Homo sapiens: one gene and its partner. The protein of the gene in region 1 interacts with the protein of each later gene in a pairwise test. Each region holds a gene or a part of one and is shown on either strand. Other genes may lie near its edges.

Region 1 (15,609 bases):
GATCATGAGATCAAGAGATCAAGACCATCCTGGCCAACATGGTGAAACCCCATTTCTACTAAAACTACAAAAGTTAGCTGGGTGTGGTGGTGGGCGCCTGTAGTCTCACCTACTCAGGAGGCTGAGGCAGGAGAATCGCTTGAACCTGGAAGGTGGAGGTTGCAGTGAGCCAAGATTGCACCACTGCACTCCAGCCTGGTGACAGAGCCAGACTCTGTCTCAAAAAAAAAAAAAAAAAAGGTGGGGGAGGACAAGTAATAAAAGAGGGTGGCAAGAAGGATCGATTTTGTCAGAGAAACTGAATAACAACAGCTAACATTTATTGAGTGTGTGCTTTGTGCCAGGCTCTGCTAAGTGCTTTCTTTATAATCTTTTTTTTTTTAGACGGAGTCTCCCTCTGTGGCCTAGGCTGGAGTGCAGTGGCACGATCTCAGCTCACTGCAGCCTCCAAATCCTGGGTTCAAGCAAGTCTCCTGCTTCAGCCTCCCGAGTAGCTGGGACTACAGGCGTCCACCACCATGCCCAGCTAATTTTTGTATTTTTAGTAGAGACGAGGTTTCACCATGTTGGCCAGGGTGGTCTCAAACTCCTGGCCTCAGGTGGTCGACCCACCTCGGCCTCCCAAAGTGCTGGGATTACAGGTGTGAGCCACTGCACCTGGCCAGTGCTTTCTTTATAATGGACTCTTCACACCAATTCTATGAGGTAGGCAGTGTGGTAATGTTATTATACACACAAAGCTGATAAGCAGCACAAGATTATAGATTCAGACCCAGGCCTTACTCCGAAACCTGAGCTCTTGGCACCCTGGTAGCCAATGCGAAGATGGAAACATCAGCTCTAGAAAGCCCCTACCACAGAGTCTGGAAAGACAGACGATGCCCAGTAAGTTATTTCCCTGCCCATTCTCACACTAACTCAGAGGGAGAAACTTTTTCTTGATCTTGAGCTCCACAGGGAATTTGACCCTGTGGCTTTGTACAAGAAACACTAATACGACATAGTGGGTAATGTCCCCCATATCAATGTTACCAGAAATGAAGCAGCATGCCACATCATATGAAAACAGAGGGCATAATGTTAGGTCTTAATTTATTAAGTGCAGTTCAGTCGGGATCCAGGAGCTTAGACAGCTGATAGCAAGCTTTCACTTTATCTTTTAGAATGCCCTTTTGCCCTTTTGAGTCTCTTGCCTGGAAATGGTCTATGACAGACCTCTGCTGCCCTCTGGTGGGCAGAGCATGAAGCACCCAGCAAAGAATTCTTTCCAGTCACATGGCCTCTTCTTTGTTTATATTGCTGAATCTGTGGGAAGCTGGGCTTCTCCACACAATCCCTTGAGGAGAAGGCTTAACTTGTATATGAAAGGAAAGACACCTCTCCCAACTCAAGAGCAACCCACTGCCAGGATACGCTCTGGGCCTCCTGCCTTCCTCACCCCACTTACACGCCTTACCAATAACATCATGCCCCCACGGGAGCAGTGGAGGCTGCAGGGGCCCATGGTATTGCTGGGGCCAAGGGCACATATGGAGTCTGAGATTTCTACAACCAGATGGTCAAGAAGCAGGGTGGAGAAGGGAGGAGCTGCGTGGTTCTGGTCAAAGAACAAGTCTTTCTCAGCCTACACTGGAGCCCCAGACATTCCTGCCCACGATGAGGAAGCTGAGGAGCAGGGCGGGGGAGAAGGGTGGCTTTTCAACCTGGTCAGAGGCTAATTTCGGGGTGCAAGGTGAGAGAGTAGGATCACGGTCCACTGAGACCTGCTCCTGGGTCATTTCCACCCCAGGACCAAGGCTGAAATGGACTTAAACCCTGAGGAAGGAAAGGTTCTAATGGCTTCTTTAGTTCAGGGTCCAACAGTAGAGAAAGCTGCCCAGAAAGACCTGGGGGTGGGAATTTGGCCCCAGCTCAGCCTTTAACCGCCAGCTTTCAAATTTAACCCTTCAGCACTCTCTCTCATCTCTATCTCTCTCTCATCTCCATCTCTATCTCTCTATACATCTATCTATCTCTCTATCTCTCTCGACGTTGCTACCTGTAAGCAGGTCAGCAGCTCCCTCTGGAAAGGGTGAGCCTCCAGACGAGGAGGAAAGGTCTGCAAGGAGCAGCTCTCCCATTGCTCAGCCTGAGCTGTGCCTGGGGCTCACACCTGTCTCTCCAGTCCCACTCTCCACCCTGACAGAACATCATTCTGCAATATGAGAGGATTCCCAGACTGTTGTTTTTCATTGAAAGTTCTACCATACTGATGATTTTTTTTTTTTTTTTTTTTTTTGAGATGGAGTTTCGCTCTTGTCGCCCGGGCTGGAGTGCAATGGCAGGATCTCGGCTCACTTGGAACTTCCACCTCCCAGGTTCAAGCAATTCTCCTGCCTCAGCCTCCTGAGTAGCTGGGATTACAGGCGTGCACCACCAAGCCTGGCTAATTTTTGTATTTTTAGTAGAGACGGGGTTTCACCATGTTGGTCAGGCTGGTCTTGAACTCCTGACCTCAAGTGATCTGCCTGCCTTGGCCTCCGAAAATGTTGGGATTACAGGCGTGAGCCACTGCACCCGACCACTGCTGAGTGTCTGTGCCTTCTCCCCCTTGTTTTCATCCTGGCATGTGAAATTCTGGTTTCTACCTGGTTCAGAACATTTATCTCTTTTCAGTACAGTAGACATGTCAATGTTGCCTGATCTGAAAAAGAGTGGCTGGCATGAACCTCGCAGTGGCCAACCCAGAAACATCCATGACTCCAGGATCATGTTGCAGGGAACTGGGAAGGGCCAGTGTCTGTGTGATGGGCTGCTGAACATTTTGGCAGATCCCTCTTCCACTGTTTTATCATTTTGTTGTTTATTTAAAAACTCGAATACATGCACATAGTTTTTTTAAAAATCATTATATCATCACACCACCACACCCGGCTAATTTTTGTATTTTTAGTAGAGACAGGGTTTCTACTAAAACAGTCAAAGGCACAGCTACTCAGAAGGCTGAGGTAAGAGAATTGCTTGAGCCCAGGAGGCGGAGGTTGCAGTGAGCGGAGATCGTGCCACTGCACTCCAGCCTAGGCGACAGAGCAAGATTTCGTCTCAAAAAAAAAAAAAGATAACTAGTTAAATAAATTACCCATTTCATAGAGTTCTATTAAAAGAATATACGTGATGACATGAAAGATCTCCAAGATACACAATATAATCCATTTCATATAAATAAAAAACATAACTTTAAAAAATTATCTTGGTCCCAAGAACCTAGGGATATCCCCTCCCTAAAATAAAGCTACCTGGAGGGGACAAACTGCCTGTCTTGGAGCCAAGGGCTGGCCCTCAAGGAAGGAGGTCCAAGGTGGGAACATTCCAACATCTATAAGAAACTAGCCACTCGGCTGGGCACAGTGGCTGACGCCTGTAATCCCAGCACTTTGGGAGGCCAAGGCAGGCAGATCACCTGAGGTCAGGAGTTCAAGATAAGCCTGGCCATCATGGTGAAACCCCGTCTCTACTAAAAATACAAAAATTAGTCAGGCATGGTAGCGCGCCTGTAGTCCCAGCTACTCGGGAGACTGAGGCAGGAGAATCACTTGAACCTGAGAGGCAGAGGTTGCAGTGAGCCAAGATTGCGCCACTGCACTCCAGCCTGGGCAACAGAGTGAGACTACATCTCAAAAAAAAAAAAAAACTAGCCACTCACCCTTGTTCCACCCTCAACCCACATTCTCCAATAAAAGAAAGAAGGTCAGCAGGTCTAAAAGAGACTGACCTCCACCCCCACCAGGGCTTGAGAAAGACATCTATGGCAAGTCACTCTCAGTTTAGTTTCCACCCTCAACCCACATTCTCCAATAAAAGAAAGAAGGTCAGCAGGTCTAAAAGAGACTGACCTCCACCCCCACCAGGGCTTGAGAAAGACATCTATGGCAAGTCACTCTCAGTTTAGTTTCCACCCATCTCTTCCCTAGCCACACCCAACCAAAACCCATTTTCAGTGTCCTCACAAAGAATGGATTACCCATCTGTCCTAAATATGTAAATCGTACAATCCCACAGGCACACACATACCCTCTAGCTCTCCCATATCATCTGAGCCCTCAAATAGCACAAACAAGAGGTCAGCACCAGCCTTTATCGGGAAAGAGAAGCACCACACACCCACTACCCAATCCAGGGCTATTTCCCATGCTCTGGTCAGCGGCAGGAGGAGAAGCAGAGCAGAGAGGGCCATGAGTGCCCCTGGAAATGTCACAAGCCCCAGGATGTCACCCTCTCTTGACTGCCAGGAAAAGCTTCCAGAATTACCAAAGAAGCTCCAGACAAATCAGCACAGCTAGGGCACCGGGATCTCTGCAAGTAGAAGAAACATCAAGTCACAGCTGTGCCCTCCTGGCTTCAGCTACCTGAAATGTTTTCCCTCCACCCTAGGAAAGCTTGGCCTATATTGCTCTCAAAAGTCTTAAATAGCTCCTTGCTTCCCAGACAATCCAATCCAAACTGGCACTGAAGGCTCTTATTATTCAGATGTCAACCTTGTATCTCCTGTTATAAAAAACTGGAATTATGGTCGGGCACAGTGGCTCATGCCTGTAATCCCAGCACTTTGGGAGGCCAAGGTGGGTGGATAACCTGAGATCAGGAGCTCGAGACCAGACCTGGCCAACATGGTGAAACACTGTCTCTACTAAAAATACAAAAATCAGCTAGGTATGATGGCAGGCGCCTGTAAATCCCAGCCTTGGGAGGCTGAGGCAGGAGAATTGCTTGAATCCAGGAGGCAGAGGTTGCAGTGAGTCGAGATTGTGCCATTGCACTCCAGCCTGGGTGACAAGAGTGAAACTCCATCTCAAAAAAAAAAAAAAAAAAACTGGAGATACGTCTGTTCCTTTACCCACCCTGCCCCCACTCCTCACCTCCCAAACATATCCCACACATTCCCACCCTGTGTTCCTTTGCCAGCAATCACCAGATTGCCTATCTGGCATGTCCCTGTGCTATCCTCCCTTTGTCGCATCTGCCTAGCCTTAAGCACCTCAATCAAATCCCACCTCTCCCACAGAGACCTTCCCAGGGAGCCACACCTGGGAACAGGTGTAAGCCTGTACTGTTTATATGAGGGTTCTCATCTGGGACACAGGTTTGCCACACCTGAGAACAGGTGTAAGCCTGTACTGTTTGTATGAGGGTTTTCATCTGGGACATAGGTTCTTTCTCTCCAACTAGACTTTTCCTGACCTTCTGAAGTCCCCTTCCCAGCACCTAAGCCAGTGCTTTGCACATAGCAGTTGTCTGTTATTGTTGATGACAATGGACTGTACTCACCTAATTCGGAATCAGACCTCACAGTCCAGTTGGGGTTCATGGTCAGTTTTGGGGGCAGGACTGGTGGGACACAGAAGCGGCCACAGCCTGACTTGCAACATTTTTCTCCAGCTTGACAATTCTCATCCATCACACAGCCAACAATGCACAGGCCCACCAGAACTTTTGGACAATCACCGCCCCGCCCTGTGGGAACAACAGGCACAGGAAAAGGGACAGGGCATCAGCTCTGCCATCTCCATGTTCCCATCGTGAACTTACACACAGAGGCTCTAGGTCAATCAACCCCTGACCCTCACTAGACCCAACTAAACTGGCTGGGAAACCATGGCGCTGGAGGATCTCAGAATCTTTAGGAACCCAAGAGACCTCTGAGCCCAGAGTTTTCAAATGGTGCCCCAAAGGGAGTTCCCAAGAGGTAACTCAGGGATTGACACCTCTGCAGGTTTGGGGTGGGGGTGGGTGAAGTGTGGCAGGGGCAAGCCTCCCAGACCACTCCCCCTCCCCCTATGCTCTGGATTCATAGTGTCACTTCTTCACGGTGGCCTCCTCTGCCACCCTAGACAAGGTTTGATGTCCCTGCTTTGTGCTCCTGTAGCACCCTGTATGCTTCCTCTCATCAAACTTTATCATAATCCCTTATTTAAAAGGAATATGTCTATCTTGCCTGATGGGCTATAAGCTACATACGGACAAGAGTCTGTCCTCAGCCTTGAGCACTGCCTGGGAATCTAAAGGGACTAAGATAGCACAAGGGTCAATGATTCTTTAATGGAGATCCACAGTGCCTGGCACTCAAAAATATTTGTTTTTTTAAAATGTTGAAGAAAAAAAGGCATTGGAACAGGAATGCTTTTATCTCTGTGTGTGTGTGTGTGTGTGTGTGTGTGTGTGTGTGTGTGTGTTTCCAGCTGGGCGTGGTGGCTCACGCCTGTAATTCCAGCACTTTGGGAGGCCGAGACAGGCAGATCACGAGGTCAGGAGTTCAAGACCAGCCTGGTCAACATGATGAAAACCCATCTCTACTAAAAATACAAAAATTAGCTGGGCATGGTGGCGTGTGCCTGTAATCCCAGCTACTCAGGAGGCTGAGGCAGAAGAAACCCCAGAGGCAGAGGTTTCAGTGAGCCAAGATCACGCCACTACACTCTAGCCTGGGGTACAGACCAAGACTCTGTCTCAAAAAAAAAAAAAAAGAAAAAAAAGAAAAAAAAAAAAAATATATATATATATATATATATATATGTGTGTGTGTGTTTCCAACTAAGATTTCATTTGGGGCAGGGGAGAAGCTTTTTGTTAAAAATTAGATCTGAAAATCAGGATCTTGGGCAACTCCTTCATTTTACAGATAAAGAAATTTGGGCTCAAAAAGACGGGTTTGCTTACCTAAGGTCACAAAGCAAAACCTCAGCAGAATCAAGACCAAAAGCCACACTGTCTGTCTTCCAGCCCAAGTAGTTCCTACTGCCCCACAGTGCCTTCCCCCAGTTCTTTTAATGTCGACAGGGCCCCTCGGCCCTAGAAGAATGGGTTGCTTTGGGTTGGGGGACCAGAGGGACAGGAAGGATGAGAATCCTAGCTCCTCCCAGGAAGGGAAAGAGAAGCACTCTTCTCAGGAAACACTCAAGGATTTCTTCCCAAAAGAGCCAACATACCTCCCTCAATGTCTCCGAGGCAGGTGCGGCCACAGCCGGTGCTGCAGCATTTATGCCCCTGGGGACAGGATGCATCCCCATCACACAGCTCCTCACACGGAAGGGGGTCAGCGGGACATTCACCACCAAACTCTGCTACATAATCAAAGCATTGGAGCCCAGAGACGCTCACAATATGAAACACATTTTTCATTGTGTCCCATGTGTATGTTTATATATAGTTATATATTTATATACATATATAATGTAAATATTTATGTGTATCATGTATCTGCAATACATCTGATTTTTTTTAAGACAGGGTCTCACTGTGTTGCCCAGGCCAAAGTGCAGTGGCATAATCATAGCTCACTGCAGCCTCAAACTCCTGCATTCAAGGGATCCTCCCACCTCAGCCTCCTGAGTGGCTAGAACTACAGGCACATGCCATCATGCCTGGCTTATTTATTTATTTATTTTGTAGAGACAGGGTCTCACTGTATCACCCAGGCTAAAGTACAGTGGCACAATCATAGCTCATTGCAGCCTGAAACTCCTGTGCTCAAGGGATCCTCCCACCACAGCCTCCTGAGTACCTGGGACTAGAGGCACAAGCCACCAGGCCTGGGTAATTTTATTTATTTATTTTGTAGAGACAGAGTCTCACTATGTTCCCTAGGCTGATATCAAACTCCTGGCTCAAGTGATCCTCCCGCCTGAGCCTCCCAAAGTGCCAGGATTACAGGCGTGAGCCCCCCCACCCAGCCCACCCTGATATTTTATATTCTAGTTCTTATTTTTCCTAATTACTAAATTGCTTTCAGGACTCACAGTTTGAAAAACACTGTTCAGGTCTAACCCACTGTGGCCAACATTCTCCCTGAATTCTCCCTGTGGCAGACATTTACAATGGTGGCCTCCAGTGAACTTTACCTCCTGGGATTCAGGCCCTTTTGTAGTCCCCTTCCATACCTACTCTGGGTTTGACCATCTGACTTGCTTTGACCAATGGGACATTAGCAAATGTAATGTAAGCAGAGCCTTGATAAGCACTAGCATACTGGGGCTTGTCCACTCAGAATACTTCCTCTTGGAAACCAGCCGCCATGCTATAAAGCAGCTTGAACTACGCTATGGGATGATGAGATGCCCCATGGAGACAGAACCTAGAAGAGAGGTCATCCTGGACGTTGTGGCTCCAGTTGAGCTCCCTGCTAAGCTCCCAGATGAATGCAGCTAAATGAATGACCACAGCTACATCATGTGGGTATATGAACTGCCCAGCCAAGCTCAGGCAACCTACACAACTGTGAGAAAGAGTAACTATATTGCTTTAAGTCATGAAGTTTGGAGATGGTTTCTTATGCAGCAATAGATACTGGATACCAAGTTTATTCTGAGAGGCAACAGGTCCAGCTAAAATGATTTGTTTCCCCATACTCTCTTGCAACAAGGGGTGACCACAAACTAGGACATAAACTGGGAAACTTTTGTATTCCTGACACAGGGAATACCCCTTTCAAACTGCTCCCTCACTTCTTTCTTCTTCCAGTCCAAAGATAGACATTACACAGAGAGGCAGAGTAGCCTTCTTTCAATGAGGAGGCAACTCAGCATAACGAAATGGTCAAGAATTGCAAAGAGGTGTTGTATGAAAGGAGAGAAGGTTAGCACTCCCCTCGACAAGGATGGAAGAGGCCTTTGGGCCTGACAACATGCATATGGTTCAAGCATTGCCACCTACTTTGTGGCATCTAACCATCGTCTTTTAAAATAAATAAATAATAAAATGTAAATGTAAAAAAAAAAAAAGAATTGCAAAGGAGAAAGAGGGAAATAGTTTCATCCTTGTTAGCATCATGGAGCCACCATCCCAGCCTCAGGAATTCTTGTTATATGAGAAAAACAAACCCCTATATGATTAATTTTCTGTTGTGTGCAGCCAAACACATTTCCTATGAAAATAAACTCAGAGAAGAATCTTGCCCAGAACTACAGAGTGAGTCAGCAGCAAGGCAGGACAACACTCAGCCTCTTGATTTGCGGTAAAGTACTTTTTCTACTACACTATCCTTAAAACATGCAGGCAACTGGCCAGGGCCCCAGGCGCAGGCACACCCAAAGAAGGCCACATCCAAACCAAACCAATTCACCATGACTCATTCATCTTAGTGTTTATTTCAAGCTTCTTAAGTAAAGAGAAAGGTGACAGGCAATTAAAGATTTCGCAGAAAACCAAAGCAAGACTGGCCCAGTGCCTCTGAGTAGGAACAGGTAAGTATGATTGCATACAGCTGGCTCTGGGAAGTCTGCCATGATGGAAAAAGCAAGTATTGGAATCCAAGGAGAATACATGCAGCTAAACAACCCAGGCGTAGTAACCCTGTATCCTGAGATTTTCCTGAACAGCCCCTATTTCAAATATCCTGTGCTACTGTGAGATCACATCAAAACTATGTGTCCTGATTTTTGACTCAGAAAATGTGGTCACTGTAACCACCAAATGCATCTCCCTGCACCTCCCCACCTGCTTGACAAACACTGAAATCCATTTAACAAGGAACAAAAGCCTTCTATCTCACAGCTGAGAAGGCTGGGAGTAAAAATCTCCCTGGTGGAAAAACCCGGTGACATAAACATCTCATAAAATTATGCCATGTGCCCTAGAAACTGGGAGTGCCATACGTCCCAGATTTCACCATTTTGCTGAGCTTGACCTTGAGATGACCAATGCCAGGAGCTCTCTGCTACTCTCTGCCCTCGTCCTCAAGACCAGGCATGGAGCACTTACCTCTACCCTTTTCCAGGCCAGGCTTCCTGGAGGCCCAGAGGGTCACAGCACCTCGCTTTTGACCAGTGCCCAGCAATGCCACCCAGTCTGACACCCTGCCTTATATGAATCCCTGCCACGTGATCCCTTTCTCTCAGCTCTAACACCTGGAATTAATGGGGCCTCACTACCTCCAAGCCAGATTATGCTATCCTACTTAAGCTAGACAGCCTTTATACCTTTTTTTTTTTTTTTTTTTTTTTGAGACAGGGTCTCGCTTTGTCACCCAGGCTGGGGTGCAGTGCCGCAATGGTGGCTTACTGCAGCCTCAAACTCTTGAACTCCTGGGCTCAAGCAATCCTCCAACCTCAGCCTCCTGAGTAGCTGAACTATAGGCACACACTACCAGGCCCAGCTAATTATTTTTATTTTTTATAGAGACAGGGTCTCACTATGTTGACTAGGCTTGTTTTGACCTTCTGGCCTCAAGCAATCCTCCCGCCTCAGCCTCCCAAAGTGCTGACGTCACAGGCATGAGTTACCATGCCTGGCCCTTTGTACCTCTTTATACTGACCTGAAATCTGGCTGGGCCTTTTCCTATCCCCAGAGACCTTACAAAAACCTGGCGGATGCCATTCTTTCAGGCAGGATCCTCTGTCTTTCACGATCCTGGCTTTGCCATGCTAGGTAAGGTCAGTTCCTCATAAGACATGCTCCCTAATCACCTCACAATTAGCTTACCAGGAATCAGGAAGAGAAATAGGAACAGTAGCCAGAATGGGGATGACGGTTCCCCACCCTCTATCAGCACCCATCCCAAGACTCTAAGCTATCACCAAAAAAGGAGTGAAGCTGAAGCCCAGGAAATACTCACTCACAGTCTGTCCTGCTGCCTCAGCTCCAACCTGCCACTATGTCTGAGAGAAAGATGCCAGTTGTTGTTGGAAAAGTAAAATTTCAGCACTTCTTAACCCAAGAAGGGCCCTCTGAGCTAACAAACTTACTCCCCTTCTCTTGTAAATAGAGAGACAGACAACTAGAGAGAGGGATTGGCCTGAGGTCAATGGTAGCAGAACTGAGTCACAAATCCCCAGCTCTGATATAAGGTCTCATGCCCTTTAAACCACATCATGGGCCTGGCTCAGTGGCTCATGCCTGTAATCCCAGCACTTTGGGAGGCCAAGGTGGGTGAAACACTTGAGGTCAGGAGTTCAAAACCAATCTGGCCAACATGTTGAAACCCTGTCTCTACTAAAAATACAAAAAAAAAAAAAAAAAGCCGGGTGTGGTGATGGGTGCCTGTAATCCCAGCTACTGGGGAGGCTGAGGCAGGAGAATTGCTTGAACCTGGGAGGCAGAGGTTGCAGTGAGCCGAGATCACACCACTGCACTCCATCCTGGGTGACAGAGCGAGACTCCATCTCAAACACACACATAGACACACACACACACACATCATCATGATCCCCTACACTGCAGCAAGGATCACACAAAAACCAAGAAGCACTGGGACTCACTCTGCCCAGTTCCACCAAAAGAGAAGATCCAGTGGTAGATAGTTTTAGAGGTTAGGAAAAGTTATCCACCAGTGTGTAGGCAGTCCTCAAGACCACTTACTTCCAGGTTCAGTGATTCATTAGCAGGACTCAGCGTATAGTCATACCCATGGCTATGATTTATTACAGCAAAAGGATACAAAGAAAAATCATCAAAGGGAAAAGTCCAGAGGAAATCAGGTGCTGATTTTCAAGAGTCCTCCCGGTAGAGTCACAGGATGCACTTAATTCTTCCAGCATGGAATTATGACATGTGTGAAGTGTTTTCTACCAGGGAAACTCATTAGACACTCACTGTGAAAGTTCTCTACTGGGGGCTGGTCACTTAGGCACCCTCTGCCTAGCACGTACCAAGATTCCAGACTCTCAGAAGGAAAGCAGATGTTCAGCCTAAACCACAATGTTTACACAAACAGTTTAGGCACAGTGAACCACTCTTATCAGTTAGAGTAGTACAAATACCCACAAAATCCAAGTTCCCAGAAGCCAGCCAAGGCCCAGCCTTGCCAGCAAGCCTTTTTAAGAAGAGCGGTCTCAGGCTTGTTATGTTAACTCTTTTCTGTACAACCTGCAGTGAGGTTTTAGAAAAGGGTCAGCCAGACACCCAGGGAGGCCATGCCATCAGCCCACGTAAAAGATAATACATATATGTTAATAAGCAAAACAGAGGGTCACAGGGGATCTGGAGTGGTCAGGTTTCATACAGTGGGGAGGTGAGCCATGAGGAGGCCCAAGAAGACAACTGTCAGGCCAGAATCAGAATCTTCACTCCAAAACCTCTTCCCCCAGGTTGTCCCTGTCTCAGTAAAGAACACCACCATCACCCAACTGCTCAAGCTGAATATCTACCACCCTTCTTGATACCCCGTCTCCCTCAATGCCTGCAGCCACTTACTTGTTCACCCAGTCCCATTAATTCTACCTTCACAAACATGTAAGCCTTCCATTTTTCTTTTTCATTGTTATTGGTTTTTTGGGGGCTTTTTTGTTTTGGATTTTTTTTTTCTTTTTTTTGAGATGGAGTTTCGCTCTTGTTGCCCAGGCTGGAGTGCAGTGGTGCGATCTCGGCTCTCTGCAACCTCCACCTCCTAGGTTCAAGCGATTCTCCTGCCTCAGCCTCCCGAGTAGCTGGGATTACAGACGCCCACCATCATGCCCGGCTAATTTTTGTATTTTTAGTAGAGATGGGGTTTCACCATGTTGGCCAGGCTGGTCTCAAACTCCTGACCTCGTGATCTGCCCGCATTGGCCTCCCAAAGTGCTGGGATTACAGGCATCAGCCACTGCGTTCGGCCGCCTTCCATTTTTCTATGTCTGCAGTATCTCCAACCCAGTCTAAGCCCCGATCATCTCTCCCAGCCTGCCACAATAGCCTCCTAACTGGTCTTCCATCTTCTACACTTGCCCCCATCCATTCTTCATATACTGGCAGAGTGGTCTTTTTAAAATGAAAACTGGACAAGGCCTCTCCTGCTTTTAAACCCCCTCAAAGGCTTCCTATTGCACTTAGAATAAAGCCTAAGAGAGAAGCCCTGAAGACCCCCGAAAGTCTGGGCCCTGCCTACCTCTCCAACCTCAAATGAAAGCAGCCTCCTTCTCTCTTCTTCCTTTACCTTCAAAGCACTCATGACTCATCATCATCTTGGGGTTATTATGTATTTGTTTTCTTGATTATTTCCTGTCTGTCACACTATATGAGCAAGCCCCAGGGTGGCAAGGACCACGGCTGCCTTCCTCACCACTGCAGACCCACATGCCAGGTAGGGTAGCCACACTCAATATACAGTGAATACATGAATAAGTGGGTGAGTAAACGGATAGGTCAGGCATCAGATAGGTGGGGAGGCAGAGAAGGGGCGGACCAGAACACAGAGGTACTTGGCATGACCATATGAGCTCTCTTGAGCATTATCTGGCAGGTTTACTGCAGACTTTTTTAAATGCATTTCTGGCCGGACACAGTGGTTTGTGCCTGTAGTCCCAGTTTCTCAGGGAACTAAGGCAGAAGGATCACCTGAGCCCAGGAGGTTGAGGCTGCAGTGGGCTGAGATCACACCACTGCACTCCAGCCTGGGTGATAGAGTGAGACCTTGTCCCAGATAAATAAATAAATAAAATGCATTTCTTCTCAACTGCATTATCACTCTGGGAGCTAAACATCCTTATCCCCATTTTACAGATAATAAAAGTGAGATTCAGAGAAATGAAGGGACTTGCCCAAGGCCACACAGCAAGCAAGCAGAAGAGCCAGGATTCAGACCCATGTTCAGACTAGAACAGTGTCATGAGAGCAGGACCCAATGTCTGCCCTTGCCCTCAGGCAACCTGACTGAACCTCCACTTTGCCAAACAGACCAGCGCTGGCTATGGTAAACCTCTGGCAATGTCAGAGCTTAAGGAAAGCGAAATTTTTCATAGCCCTGGAAGGAGAGCTTCCTGTAGAGTTGGGTATAGCAACCAGTCCTGTTGGGTGAGTAGCCTAGCCCTCCCCTAGGGCTGGAGCTATACAAAAGTAGTTAACTACCAATGCAGTAGCCAGTATCACCTCCCACCAGGCTAGGAACCCCGCTCAGCCCAGCAGGCTCTGGGACATCTGCGGGAGATCACTATTCTAGCCTGCCTGCCAAGCTCCAGTGGAAAAGGAAGCCCTATCTGGGCTGGCCAGGGGCCAGAGCAGCTCACAAAGGTACTGTGCCTGGGTGCCAGCCTCGCCCTTAGCCCCTACAATTCAGCCCTCAGCTTCAAACACTGGGAAGATTGTACCAAGCCCTACATGCCAGCAGTCAGTGACCTGCCTGAGACAGATTCCCAGGCTGGTTCCAGAGCTGGGCCTCAAGAGTCCTGGCAAGGAGAACAACCTTCCATTCTCTCTAATGGGCAGGCTGCCCAAGATAGCTGCCTAAGCCGGGCACAGACAGACCCAATGGGTACCAGCAAGGGGCCTCCTACCTGGAGAGGTTTGACTGGAAGGAAAAAGGTTGTCACATGTTACAGGGCTTCAGGTTCTGAGAGGAAGTGATCAGGGAAGAAGAAAACCATCCTGGTTTTGAATAAAGGGGCTGGTGAGAAATTGTACTCCTGCTGGGCATGGTGGCTCACACCTGTAATCCCAGCACTTTGGGAGGCCAAGGCCGGTGGATCACCTGAAGTCAGGAGTTTGAGACCAGCCTGACCAACATGCTGAAAAGCCGTCTCTACTAAATACAAAAAATTAGCTGAGCATAGTGGCACATGCCTATAATCCCAGCTACTTGGGAGGCTGAGGCAGGAGAATCGCTTGAACCTGGGAGGTGGAGATTGCAGTGAGCCGAGACTGCACCACTGCACTCCAGCCTGGGCAACAATAGCGAAACTCAGTCTCAAAAAAAAGAAATTGTACTTCTGACCCAGGCCACTTAGGAGGCAAGAGGAAGGAAGTTAATATATACTGAGGGCAAAACACTTTACATAATTTGAATAATTACAACAAGCCTTCGAGGTTTATTCTTCCCACCTTACAGAGAAGGGAACTAAGGCTCAAAATTACTTGCCCAGGGACCTGCTGGCCAGTAACTGGCAAACCTCAGGCTTGAACCCAGGACTCCGACAACCCAAACCTAGGATTTTCCACTCTAACATCCACCACATGCACTCAGATAAGAGAATGATTCCAGTTCCTTTAGAAAACATAATGAGAAATATTCAAAACAGCAGAGAAGAAAATAAAATACCTAGGCATAAATTTATGGAGAAATATTTTAACACTATAAAACACCCTGAAATATGCAAAATACACTTGATCAACAGGGAAGGCATAGGATTCAACATAGGCCAGGCACAGTGGCTCATGCCTGTAATCCCAGCATTTTGGGAGCCAAGGTGGGCAGATCACCTGAGGTCAGGAGTTCGAGATCAGCCTGACCAACATGGCAAAACCCCATCTCTTCTAAAAATACAAAAATTAGCTGAGCATGGTGGCACACGCCTGCAATCCCAGCTACTCAGGAGGCTGACGCACAAGAATGACTTGAATGTGGGAGCAGAGGTTGCAGTGAGCCAAGATCACGCCACTGTACTCCTGCCTGGGCGACAGCCTGTCTCAAAAAAAAAAAAAAAAAAGAACATTTCAGTACCATAAAACAGGGTAAGAAAAAAAAAAGATTCAACATTATAATAACAGCAGTTCTCCTTAAGCTAATTTAATTTATATATCTAACATCACTCCAGTGAACGTAGTCTTGGTATTTGGGAATGATGGAAGAAAAATAGATAATATTATAATAAAATATATTTGGAAGCACAAATAAGCAAAAGTAGCCATGAAAATCGTGAAACAAGAGGAAAATAGGAAGGGGTTAGACA
Region 2 (13,653 bases), on another chromosome or scaffold:
CATACACCATGGTGGGTGGTGCTGGTGGTGTGCAGCACTGTGGGGGCTTTAGGGTTGTCATCGTAATAATAACCCATGGGGGCTGGGCACAGTGGCTCATGCCTGTAATCCCAGCACTCTGGGAGGTCGAAGTGGGTGTACTGCTTGAGGCCAGGAGTTCAAGACCAGCCTGGGCAACATGGCAAAACCCTATCTCTACAAAAAGTACAAAAATTAGCTGGGCATGGTGGTACATGTCTGTAGTCCCAGCTACTTGGGAGGTAGAGGCACGAGAATCACTTGAACCCACGAGGTGGAGGTTGCAATGAGCCAAGATCGCACCACTGCACTCCAGCCTGGGTGACAGAGCGAGACTCCGTCTCGAATAATAATAATAATAACCCATGGGGCACTCTCATGATCTCCATTTGCAAGACAAGGAAGGTGAGGCCCAGAGAGGTGAAGTGATTTGCTTGAGGTCACACAGCAGTTGGGTCACATGGTGAGTGTAGAGGGTTTGAAGGCAGGTTGCCTGGTTCTGGAATGTGCTTTCTGGCTCTGTCTAGGGTATTTAGCGGGCAGGGGCAGGGACACTGAGTCCTGCCTGTGGGGGAGGAAAGACAGCTCCGTCCCATCCCCTCCAGGGAGAAGTCCAGAGTGAGAAGGGGTGGGAAGGAAAGGGAATTGTTAGTGCGCATTTGAGGGTCTGGGGGCCCGGGCCTACTCCCACTCCCGGCTGCCTGGATGGTGCAGGTGGGGGCCCCCGCCGCCTGCCTGTGAGATGAAAGGGCTGATCTGGTTCTTGATCTGCATAAGCCGGCCCAGGCCCCGCTCCACGATGGTGGGGAAGTTGAGCAGCCTCAGGGTGTGGCCCGTGGGTGCCGTGTCAAATACCACCACCGAGAAGTTCATGCCCTTCACCAGCCTGAGGGGAGACAGGGGTCAGGCCCTCTGTGTCCGCTCTTCCCCTTCCCCAGGCAGCCCCCACCCCTGCTGGCTGGGCCTGACCTCATGACCTCGGCATAGCTCATGGCCTCATCGATGCCGGGAAATGCGCTCATGGCCTCCTGCATCATCTTCTTGCCCATGCTCAGCATGTTGTCCTCCTCGAAGAACTCGTCAGGCAGCTCCGCCACGCCCAGGCTGGGGTCAATCTCCTGGGGGCCAAAGGGATGAGACTGAGGTTGCTGCTACTGCTGGGGGAGCCTTCCCACCTGGGCACAGGGCCAGGGGGAGCCTTCCTACCCGGGCACAGGGCCAGAGGGAGCCTGTGGTGGGCTGTGACCACAGGCATTTCATTAGGTCACGGCTGGGGGGACCCTGAGGTAGTACTTAGGGTTTTGTATGGTTGCATAAAGGGTCAAAAACAAGGGGAAAATTGCAAGCTGTGCCCAGGGCCCTCAAAGGGAAGCTGAAACCCACTGCGGGCCATTTACACTGCTACTCCCCACTTGCAACCTGCCACTTGCAACCCCAGATACTCCCATGACTGGGCCATGACCTCTTCCGGATCATCATCCCTCCACTGAGAGACTCCCTGACCACCCTAAGTAACAGCACAGATCCACCGACACCCCTGCCCTGCCTTCCTTTCTCCTTAAGGTTTAGCCCTTAGGAGCTGGGCAGGATAGCTCACGCCTGTAGTCCCAGGTACTCAGGAGAATGAGATGGGAGGATCGCTTGAGCCCAGGAGTTGGACACCAGCCTGGGCAATATAGCAAGACCTATCTGAAAAAAAAATTAGCCCTTCCTCACATCCCTCATGATTCCCTTATCATGTTTATCATCTGTCTCCATAGCAGGAATGTCTGCCCCTCAGGGGCAGGGGTTTTACCATCTAGTTCACTGCTGTGTCCTTAGCGCTTAGCATGAACAGTGCCTGGCACAGAGGTCGTCAGCACATATGGGGAATCCAGCCAGGCGCGGTACCTCATGCCTGTAATTCCAGCCCTTTGGGAAGCGGAGGCGGGCAGATCACCTGAGGTCGGGAGCTTGAGGCCAGCCTGGCCAACATGGTGAAACCCCGTCTCTACTAAAAATACAAAAATTAGCCATGCATAGTGGCGGGTGCCTATAATCCCAGCTACTCTGGAGGTTGAGGCAGGGGAATCGCTTGAACCCGGGAGGCAGAGGTTACAGTGAGCCGAGATCACGCCATTACACTCCAGCCTGGGTGACAGAGGGAGACTCTGTCTCAAAAAACAAACAACAAAACAAAACACAAACATGTATGTAGAATCTATGAAGGGATGGCCATGGCTGGGGTCCCTGGCCAGTCTCAGACTCAATGCCTCCCTCTTTTTTTTTTTTTTTTCCCGAGATGGAGTTTTGATCTTGTTGCCTAGGCTGGAGTGCAGTGGCGCGATCTCAGCTCATCACAACCTCCACCTTCTGGGTTCAAGCAATTCTCCTGCCTCAGCCTCCCGAGTAGCTGAGACTATAGGCATGCCCCACCATGCCTGGCTAATTTTTTTTTTTTTTTTTTTTTTTGAGATGGAGTCTTGGCCGGGCGTGGTGGCTCACGCCTGTAATCCCAGCACTTTGGGAGGCCGAGGCAGGCAGATCACCTGAGGTTAGGAGATCGAGACCATCCTGGCTAACACGGTGAAACCCCGTCTCTACTAAAAATACAAAAAATTAGCCGGGCGAGGTGGCGGGTGCCTGTAGTCCCAGCTACTTGGGAGGCTGAGGCAGGAGAATGGCATGAACCCCAGGGGGCGGAGCCTGCAGTGAGCTGAGATCACGCCACTGCACTCCAGCCTGGGCGACAGAGCGAGACTCCATCTCAAAAAAAAAAAAAAAAAAAAAAAAGAGATGGAGTCTCGCTCTGTCACCCAGGCTGGAGTGCAGTGAGTAGCTGGGACTACAGGCGCCCGCCACCACACCTGGCTAATTTTTTGTATTTTTAGTAGAGACGGGGTTTCACTGTGTTAGCCAGGATGGTGGCGATCTCCTGACCTCGTGATCCACCCACCTCGGCCTCCCAAAGTGCTGGGATTACAGGCACGAGCCATCACGCCTGGCCATGCCTGGCTAATTTTTGTAATTTTTTTTTTTTCTGAGATGGAGTTTCACTCTTGTTGTCTAGGCTGGACAATGGCGTGATCTTGGCTCACTGCAACCTCCGCCTCCAGGGTTCAAGTGATTCTCCTGCCTCAGCTTCCTGAGTAGCTGGGATTACAGGCATGCGCCACCACCCCAGCTAATTTTGTATTTTTAGTAGAGACGGGGCTTCTCTATGTTGGTCAGGCTGGTTTTCAACTCCCAACCTCAGGTGATCCACCCACCTCAGCCTCCCAAAATGCTGGGATTACAGGTATGAGCCACCATGCCCGGCCAATGCCTCCCTCTTTATCTTCCTCCTCTGTCACCTCTTCTTGGTAACTTCATGGGTCCCATGGGGAAGTACCCAACTCGCTGGCCTTAGGGGTCATTCCCTGTTGGGGAGCTTGCCCACTCATCACTGCACCCTCTTCTTATGCTTCATATATTTTAAGCTTCTTTGGACTACTTCATCCCCTCACCTGGCCCCTGTAAACTGTCAGTGTTCCTCTTGGCTGGCACCCTTATCCAGCCCAGCCTCCACAGGTTCCCTCTGCAAACACTCCCTTTCCCCTTGCTGTTGGCAAAATCCCCCACTCTGGTTACTTCCAGCTTTTTTTTTCTTTCTTTTAGAGATAGCGTCTTGGCCGGGCGCGGTAGCTCACACTTGTAATCCCAGTGTATTAGGAAGCCAAGCCAGGCAGATCATTTGAGGTCAGGAGATTGAAAACAGCCTGGCCAACATGTTGAAACCCCGTCTCTACTAAAAAAAAATACAGGCCAGGCGCGGTGGCTCACGCCTGTAATCCCAGCACTTTGGGAGGCCAAGGCGGGTGGATCACGAGGTCAGGAGATCGAGACCATCCTGGTTAACATGGTGAAACCCCGTCTCTACTAAAAATACTAAAAATTAGCCGGGCATGGTGGCATGCACCTGGAGTCCCAGCTACTCGGGAGGCTGAGGCAGGAGAATCACTTGAAATCGGGAGGAAGAGGTTGCAGTGAACCGAGATTGCGCCACTGCACTCCATCCTGGGCGACAGAATAAGACTCCGTCTCAAAACAAACAAAAAAAACCCCCCCAAAACAAAAATTAGCCGGATGTGGTGGCGGGCGCCTGTAATCACAGCTACTTGGGAGGCTGAGGCAGGAGAATCGCTTAAACTCAGGAGGTAGAGGTTGCAGTGAGCTGAGATCACACCACTGCACTCCAGCCTGGGTGACAGAGTGAAACTCAGTCTCAAAAAAAAAAAAAAAAAAGATACCATCTCATACATAGCTCATTGCAGCCTCAAACTCTTAGGCTCAAATGATCCTCCTGCCTCAACCTACCAACTTACTGGGACTATAGGCACACACCACCATGCCCAGCTAATTTTGTTTGTTTTTTGTAGAGAAAGGGTCTCCCTTTGTTGCCCAGGCTGGTCTTGAACTCCTGACCTCACGTGATCCTCTTGTCTCAGTCTCTGCAAGCACTGAAATGATAGGTATGGCTTTCTAGCTCTTTAGTATCACTGCACTTGAGGGCCGAACACTCCTGAAGAGTATTCCCATCTTGCTCCTCACCCTTTTGGAGACGGAGTCTCGCTCTGTCATCCAGGTTGGAGTACAGTGGCACAATCTCGACTCACTGTGACCTCCGCCTCCCAGGTTCAAGCAATTCTTTGCCTCAGCCTCCCGAGTATCTGGGATTACAGGCGCCCACCACCAGGCCCAACTAATTTTTTTTTTTTGAGATGGAGTGTCGCTCTGTATCCCAGGCTGGAGTGCAGTGGCATGATCTCGGCTCACTGCAACCTCCGTCTCCCAGGTTCAAGCAATTCTCCTGCCTCAGCCTCCCGTGTAACTGGGACTACAGGTGCCGGCCACCACGCAAGGCTAATTTTTGTATTTTTAGTAGAGACGGGGTTTCACCATATTGGTCAGGCTGGTCTCGAACTCCCGACCTCAGGTGATCTGCCCGCCTCAGCCTCCCAAAGTGCTGGGATTACAGGCGTGAGCCACCGTGCCTGGCTTATTTTTGTATTTTTTTTTTTGAGATGGAGTCTTGCTCTGTCACCCACGCTGGAGTGCAGTGGCGCGATCTAGGCTCACTGTAAGCTCCACCTCCCGCGTTCACGCCATTCTCCTGCCTCAGCCTCCCGAATAACTGGGATTAAAGGCACCCGCCATCACGCCCGGCTAACTTTTTGTATTTTTAGTAGAGATGGGGTTTCACCCTGTTAGCCAGGCTGGTCTCAATCTCCTGACTTTGTGATCCGCCCACCTCGGCCTCCCAGAGTGCTGGGATTACAGGCGTGAGCCACCATGCCCAGCTAATTTTTGTATTTTTAGTAGAGATGGAGTTCCACCATCTTGGCTAGGCTGGTCTTTAACTCCTGACCTTCTGATCCACCTGCCTCAGCCTCCCGAAGTGCTGGGATTACAGGCATGAGCCACCACGCCCGCCCTTGCTCCCCTCTTCTGAACACAAATCTCCAATGGGCACTTGATGATCCAGACAATTCTGGTTCCCCCTGCTACCTTAATAAGTGTTTATGTGGTATTTTCTCCCTCCTCAAACTTCTATCCCATTCACTGCTGAGACCCTTGCCTGTTCCTTGGTGAGAAAGAGAAGCCATTGGCTGCCAACACCCTCATCTCTGCCCGGGAAGTGCCCCAATTCCTCCTGTTTCCCTCCCAGTCCCTGACCCTGGCAGCGCCCAAGTTCTGGGTCTGTATGCTGGATGGAGCTCATCCCACCTGAGGACTGTCCTCTGCCAGCATCCTCACTCTGCAGCATCTCTTTATTTTATTTTATTTTTATTTATTATTTTTTGTTGAGTCTCGCTCCGTTGTTCAGGCTGTAAAGCAGTGGCGCGATCTCGGCTCACTGCAAGGTCCACTTCCCGCGTTCACGCCATTCTCCTGCCTCAGCCTCCGGAGTAGCTGGGACTACAGGTGCCCGCCACCATACCTGGCTAATTTTTTTGTATTTTTAGTAGAGATGAGGTTTCACCGTGTTAGCCAAGATGGTCTCAGTCTCTTGACCTTGTGATCTGCCCGCCTCAGCCTCCCAAAGTGCTGAGATTACAGATGTGAGCCACCGTGCCCGGCCTTTATTATTTTTTTGAGACAGAGTGTTGCTCTGTCGCCCAGGCTGGAGTGCAGTGGCGCGATCTCAGCTCACTGCAAGCTCCGCCTCCGGGGTTCACGCCACTCTCCTGCCTCAGCCTCCTGAGCAGCTGGGACTAAAGGCGCCTGCCACCATGCCCAGCTATTTTTTGTATTTTTAGTAGAGATGGGCTTTCACCGTGTTAGCCAGGAGGGTCTTGATCTCCTGACCTTGTGATCCACCCGCCTCGGTCTCCCACAGTGCTGGGATGACAGGAGTGAGCCACTGCGCCCAGCCAATTTTTTTTTTTTTTGAGACGTGAGAAAACCTCGTCTCTACTAAAAATACAAAAATTAGCCGGGCATGGTGGTAGGCACCTGTAATCCCAGCAACTCCGGAGGCTGAGGCAGGAGAATCTCTGCTTCCTGGGTTCTAGCGATTCTCCTACCTTAGCCTTCTGAGTAGCTGGTATTACAGGCACCTGCCACCATGCCCAGCTAATTGGTTTATATTTTTAGTAGTGATGGGGTTTCACCATGTTGGCCAGGCTGGTCTCAAACTCTTGACCTCAAGTGATCCGCCCACCTTGGCTTCTCAAAGTGCTAGGATTACAGGAATGAGCCACCATGCCCAGCCCTCACACAGCTTTAAATGCCACCCTTGAGACAGTGACTTCCAAATCAATGCCAACCTCCTCTGGGCTCCAGACTCACATAAACAAGCTACTGTCATGATGTTTACACTTGGATTTCCAGTGGGCAACTCAGATTCACTGTGGACAAAATGAAATTCTTTATTTGTTCATTCTAAACCTACTCCTTTCCTAGTTTTCCCCATCCCAGCTGCTCAGAGAGACAAGAAAGACATGTAATCAATTCATTTCTTTTTCTCACCCAAGTAATCTTACTGGTTTACTTCCAAAATACATCCCTGGTGCGATGTGGTGGCTCATGCCTGTAATCCCAGCACTGTGGGAGGCCGAGGCAGTCAGATCACTTGAGGTCAGGAGTTTGAGACCAGCCTGGCCAATATGGTGAAAACCTGTCTCCTAAAAAAAACAAAATTAACAGGCAGTGGTGGCGCAAGCCTGTAGTGCCAGCTACTCGGGAGGCTGAGGCAGGAGCATTGCTTGAACCTGGGAGGCGGAGGTTGCAGTCAGCCTAGATCGGGTTACTGCACTCCAGCCTGGGAGACAGAGGAGTCTTGAGTGTCTAAAAAAAAAAAAAACCTCAAGTCTGACTACTTCTCCCCCAACATTCTGCCTCCACCAGAGTCCAGGATGTTGTCATCTCTCAACTGGTTACACCCCCAATCTCCTTGTTAGTTTCCCTGCTTCTACCCTGACTGACAATTAAATCTCCACCTGGCCGTCAAAGGGTACTTTTCAAACATGAATTTGGCCACGACATTGCCCTGCTTAAAACAAACAGCTTCCCGTTAATAACCTGGAGTCAATGCCAAACTTCTTAGTGGCCCATAAGGTCCCACACCATGTGGCTCTGATTGGTCTCTCCAACTTCTCCTTCCCCTACCCTGGCTCACTAAGCTTCAGGCACTCTGGTGTGCTTCCTGCTCTGCAATTCCTCATTGGTTCCCTTGTGAGTATGTTGAGGAAGGAGTGAAACACGAGAGACACAGGATATAGAGTGGATAGGACACGGTGGCTGCTGGTGTGTGCGCACAAGAAAGGCTGGAAGAGGCTTTTCCCAGAAGTGGGGGCTAAGCCCTGTTCCACTCACCATAGCAAAGAGGTTGTCATAGCCTTTGACCTTGGTAGGCACCTTTGAGAACTTCTGGTCAAAAGCATCTGAGATGTTGTGTGCTGGGTCTGTGGAGATGATCAGAACACTCTCACGCCCCTTGGAGAGCTGGACTGCCAGGCTGCAGCTGAGTAATGGAAAAGTCAAAAGATAGGGGATGAGGGGATGGGCTCTGTTCCCTGGGTCTGCAAGGGGAGTGGTAGGTTCCCTGGAGCAGGTGACCCGAATCAGCAGGGGCCTTGAGAGGAGAGTATGGGTTATGGTGGGATTGAGCCTCAGTCCCTACAAAGGAACCCTCTCTGATTTATCTCCTGACCCCTCTATGTGGACTAGAGAGGTAAGGTTCAGCTGACTGAGTCTGTCTGGCCTAGTGCCTGCTTCTTTTTTGCTGGGCACAGTGGCATGGCCCAGCGGTCCAGCCAGCATAGCTTGACTCCGTGCCCCCTTCCTTAATAAGCTAAGGGGTCTCCTGCATTCCCTAGTAAGCACAGGATGGTTCAGTCTGCTTGTCCAGGATAATCTGTCCAACGGACACCTCCTGCCTGTAGCTGCCTGGGACAGTCTCATCACGTGCTCTCTCCCTCGCTTTCCACCCTCACTCTCGCCTTGGGCATAAAACACCAAGGTTCACCAAACTAGGATTGCTTGTTCTGGTGCCGCCCTCACCCACAACTCTGGATTCACTCAGGTACGGTCCAGCTGATGGGGATATCTAAGTGCTTCCCCGTCCCCCGGGCGCTGAGTTCACTGTGGTTCGGCACTTGAGCCCCAACACGGATGGTCCAACTCAGAGGGTGCTAGGGCTGCATTGAGGTCTTTCTCATTTGCTCCAGGTAACTTCCAGAGAGTGAAACCCAAAGACCCCCGCCAGCCCCCATGCCCCGGTCGTGGTGGAAAAGCCGGTCCTTGGCCTCCCCTTCGCCCAGTGGTATATCCTACACGCCTCCTGGCCCCCGCCGCAGCCTCCTTACCTGCAGGTGGTCTTGCCCACACCACCCTTGCCCCCGACGAAGATCCACTTCAGGCTGCGCTGCTCGATGATGTTGCTAAGTGTAGGCTCCAGCGGCTCCACATCAGGAGCATCTTCGAACTCCTCTGCCTCAACCCCCCACCCGGCCACCCCTGCCGCCATTTTGGAACTGGCTCACGTGATCCAGCGGAGCGCACCATACGAAGAACCTACAGGGGAAATTCTCTATCACATTCCTAGCGAAGCTAGGAGCATGAGTTAATTTCCTCATTACTTGCCTTTTAGGAGAAATATAAATTATATTTTCACTATTCTTTGCTTCCAGGGTTCACTTTGTCAACCTCTGGTCTATAATTTTCCAAGGGTTCCCCCTACCTAATGAACACATCGGTACGGTCTAGGCTACTCCCTTTCACTGATTGGGCCCTAGGTCTTGCAGCTCTCCTTTCATTGGCTATGTCTTTTCTTACTTACACCAATCACTCTTATGTTCCGGTAGCGCCAACCTCACCTTAGCAACCAGCCAAACACCCAGTCCATGCCCTTTCGGTGAAGTTAGATTCCCGGTCCTCCTTGGCCTGACTCCATAGGCTCAACTTTATGTCCATCATTTTCCCTCTATTCTTCACGGTAGGTCCCAACCTCACCTCAGGTCCGCCCCCTCTGTTATTCAATAGGCTGTGAGCCTCTTGGCTCTTGCCGCAAACCAATCATAGACGAATTGACTCGGTTGGCGATAGGTCCCCGGGCTGATAGTGGCTTAGAGTGGGCGAGTCCACAGAGTCTTGTCCTGTACGCCCTGATCTCCCATGCCTAGCAGACACCATTCCTGCAATTGCGCTCCGTTTCGTAGAAGGAATTCCTAAAAGTCTCCTTGTATTTCAAGAGAAGACTCCAGTATACCATATTTCATGTTTGAACCTCTGTCTTAGAGCAGGAACAGAAGCTGGGTTCCAGGCCCTTGATGGAGACCCCAGCCCATGACACTCTTAACTTTAGAGGGAGACTACAGACTAGAAATAACCCCGACTTCATCTGAATACTACAGCTCATAAAATAAGCTGATTCTCGGGCCGGGCGCGGTGGCTCACGCCTGTAATCCTACCACTTTGGGAGGTTGAGGCGGGTGGATCACCTGAGGTCAAGAGTTCGGGACCAGCCTGGCCAAGATGGTGAAAACCTGTCTCTACTAAAAATACAAAAATTAGCCGGGCGTGGTGGCACGCGCCTGTAATCCCAGCTACTTAGGAGGCTGAAGCAGGAGAATCGCTTGAACCCGGAGGGCAGAGGTTGCAGCGAGCCGAGATTGCGCCACTTCACTCCACTCCAGCCTGGGTGAAAGAGTGAAACTCCGTCTCTAAATAAATAAATAAAATAGGCTGGGCGCGTTGGCTCACGCCTGTAATCCCAGCACTTTGGGAGGCCGAGGCAGGCAGATCACGAGGTCAGGAATCGAGACCAGGTTGAGGCAGAAGAATCGCTTGAACTCGGGAGGCGGAGGTTGCAGTGAGCCGAGATCACGCCACTGCACTCCAGCCTGGGCGACAGAGAGAGACTCCGTCTCAAAAAATAAAATAAAACAAAATAAAATAAAGTAATAATAACAATAATAAAATAAAAAAGTAAGCTGATTCTCAGACGGGGACTTCAGCTCCACAGAGCCAGCTATGTCCCCAACAAATGTGAGCTTTATCCCAGAGATGGTTACCCAACCCAAAGATACCCCTATTTCTACTTGGGGGGCCCAGACTAGACATGCTCTCTATTCCCCAGTTAGGGATTCAAGTTCCCAGGTGTCAGCTGAGCACACAGCCCCAGATGAGGTCCTTCCACTCATAGAGATTATTCTTGGTGTCGTCAGACGGGGATTCTAGCCCTGGAAAGCGAATCTGTTCCTAGCCCCAAGTGAAACCAACTCCAGAGAGCAAGCTACAGCCCCAGTCTCAGACGACAGTCTCATTCTCCGGGAGCCCCTGTATGGGGAACTCCAGCCTGAGTACTGCTGAATTTTGAAAACCCGAGAGGCAGGGCTCGGTGGCTCACGCCTGTAATCCCAGCACTTTGGGAGGCTGAGGTAAGAGGACTGCTGGAGCCTAGGAGTTTGAGAACAGCCTGGGCAACATGACAAAACCCCGTCTCCACAAATATAAATAAATAAATAAATGAATAAATAAAATTAGCCAGGCGTAGTGGCGCATGCCTGTGTTTCCAGCTACTCGGGAGGCTGTGGTGGGAGGATCGCCTCAGCCCTGAGAGGTCGAGGCTGAAGTGAGCCCTGATCATGCCTTTGCACTCCAGCCTCGGAGACGGAGTGTGACTCTGTCTCCAAAACAAGACAAAAAACCAAAAACCAAAACAGCAAGACTGGGCCCGATGGCTCACGCCTGTAATCCCAACACTTTGGGAGGGGAGGCCAAGGCAGGAGGATCGCTTGAGGCCAGGAGTTCGAGACCAGCCTGGGCAATATAGCCAGGCGCCCGTCTCTAATTTTTAAAAAACAAGGCCAGGCGCGGTGGCTCATGCCTGTAATCCCAGCAGTTTGGGAGGCCGAGGCGGGCGGATCACCTGAGGTCGGGAGATTACCAGCCTGACCAACATGGAGAAATCCCGTCTCTACTAAAAATACAAAATTAGCTGGGCGTGGTGGCGCATGTCTGTAATCCCAGCTACTCGGGAGGCTGAGGCAGGAGAATCGCTTGAACCTGGGAGGTGGAGGTTGTGGTGAGCCGAGATCGCGCCACTGCACTCCAGCCTGGGAAACAAGAGGGAAACTCCGTCTGAAAAAAAAAGAAAAAAAAAAAACGAAACAAAAAAACCCGCGAGACGGGGGCTCCTCCCCCTAGCCCCGCCCCTTCGGGTTGGTTCCCTCATTCGCCCCGCCCCCGCTGCGGGCGCTGGAGGGCCTGACCGCTCTTCCCGGCATGCATTGTTCGGGACGAGGCGAGTCGGGCGCCAAGCGCGGGGCCGGAGCGGCCTTCCCGGAGTCCTTTGCGCGGCACCTGGCGACAAAATGGCTGCCCGAGGGAGACGGGCGGAGCCTCAGGGCCGGGAGGCTCCGGGCCCCGCGGGCGGTGGCGGTGGCGGGAGCCGTTGGGCTGAGTCGGGATCGGGGACGTCGCCCGAGAGCGGGGACGAGGAGGTGTCGGGCGCGGGTTCGAGCCCGGTGTCGGGCGGCGTGAACTTGTTCGCCAACGACGGCAGCTTCCTGGAGCTGTTCAAGCGGAAGATGGAGGAGGAGCAGCGGCAGCGGCAGGAGGAGCCGCCCCCGGGTCCGCAGCGACCCGACCAGTCGGCCGCCGCCGCTGGCCCCGGGGATCCGAAGAGGAAGGGCGGTCCGGGCTCCACACTTAGCTTCGTAAGGAGCCGTGGGGGTGGGGGCGGGCGCCACGGCCTGTCTTGGCAGCGGGAGTCGGGGCCCGTGAAGGGGGATCGGGACCGAAGTCCACTTTCCGTTCTGAATGAGGGGCCCGTCCGGGTCACCCGCTGAGGGTGTGGAACTTGGATTCCCGACAACTGGGGTCTAGGGGCGGGAGTGGGGACTCCAGGAGCTTGCCCGTGGGAACTGGGAGCTGAGGAATTGCCTAGGAATCAGCACTGTGGAGAATGAGGAAACGTGGATATCAGGATTCCTGTTTGAGTGGTACCCGGACCTTGGGTCATGGGACCACCACTAATTGTGAGGAAAGGGAGTAAATTTAAGTCTGGACTCTGAGCTATATGTGTTAGACTCAGACCACGTACTATGTAAGGACAATTACTTATCTAGGACAATTGCTTGACTTCCTTGTATCTTATTCGACCAACCTCCATTTATTGAGCAATTTACCTCGTGCTAGGCATTGTGCTAGGTGCTGGTATGCAGTGGTGAGCTTACAGACAAGATCGCTGCTTTCCTGGAGCCTCTGGGTTTGCCTACCCTCATTTTCCCTAGTTGCAAAAATAGACATCATAGCATCTCTTGATGTGGTGAGGGTTTTATGAGGTGATCCTGGAAAAGTGGTTAGCACAGAGCCTGTCTTCCAGGAAGGGCTAAACTGGTGGTTCTCAATTGGGGCAGTTCCCTCCACCCCCACATTTGGCAAAGTCTGGAGACATTTTTGGTTGTCAGAACTGCGGGAGGGGGTGCTAGTGACATCTATGGGTAGAGGCCAGGGATGCTGCTCAACTTCCTACCATGCGTGGGGCAGCGCCCTCCCACCCCCAAACAAAGAATAATCCAGCTCAAAATGTTATTAGTGCCAGGTTGAGAAACTCTGGATTAAGTAAATAGGGCATATATTGATTTTTGGCTCTGAGCTTGCCATGTCTGTGGTGTTAAGATCAAGTCCCTGTAGTGTGGAGGAAAAAGTGTTGAGAATAACAAGACTGGGGGCTCTAGTTCTGGATCCAGCATGTGATTTTGGGCAAATGATCTAACCTCTGCAAGCCTCAGTTTCTTCATTTGTTAAAAATGGGCGTGGGTTGGGTGCAGTGGCTCACACCTGTAATTCCAACATTTTGGGAGGTCGAGGTGGGTGGATCGCTTAAGCCCAGGAGTTGGAGACCAGCCTGGACAATATGGCAAAAATGCATCTCTACAAAAAAAAATTAAAAAATTAGCTGGGCATGGTGCCACACATGCCTGGAGCTCCAGCTACCCAGGAGGCTGAGACAGGAGGATCGCTTGAGCCCAGGAGATTCAGGCTGCAGTGAGCCATGATTGCACCACTGCGCTCTAGCCTGGATGACAGAACAAGAGAGTATCTTAAAAAAAAAATCGGTGTGAAATAATCCCAGCAGGCCAGGCTCTGTGGCTCATCCCTGTAATC

Evidence for each region.
Region 2: the proteins of WFDC3 (region 1) and GET3 interact in binary tests that used the Homo sapiens proteins (3 or more experiments, as listed by UniProt).

What each region holds. Positions count from the first base shown.
Region 1 is NC_000020.11:45,770,113-45,785,721, forward strand, and holds the end of WFDC3 (WAP four-disulfide core domain protein 3 precursor), read right to left. Parts: intron 7,098-15,609; coding exon 6,963-7,097; intron 5,491-6,962; coding exon 5,305-5,490; intron 4,333-5,304; coding exon 4,316-4,332; 3' UTR 4,101-4,315; downstream 1-4,100.
Region 2 is NC_000019.10:12,732,860-12,746,512, reverse strand, and holds the start of GET3 (ATPase GET3), read right to left. Parts: upstream 9,017-13,653; 5' UTR 9,008-9,016; coding exon 8,847-9,007; intron 8,003-8,846; coding exon 7,855-8,002; intron 1,137-7,854; coding exon 988-1,136; intron 905-987; coding exon 754-904; intron 1-753. Other genes in the region: TRIR (telomerase RNA component interacting RNase), read left to right, coding at 11,856-12,200.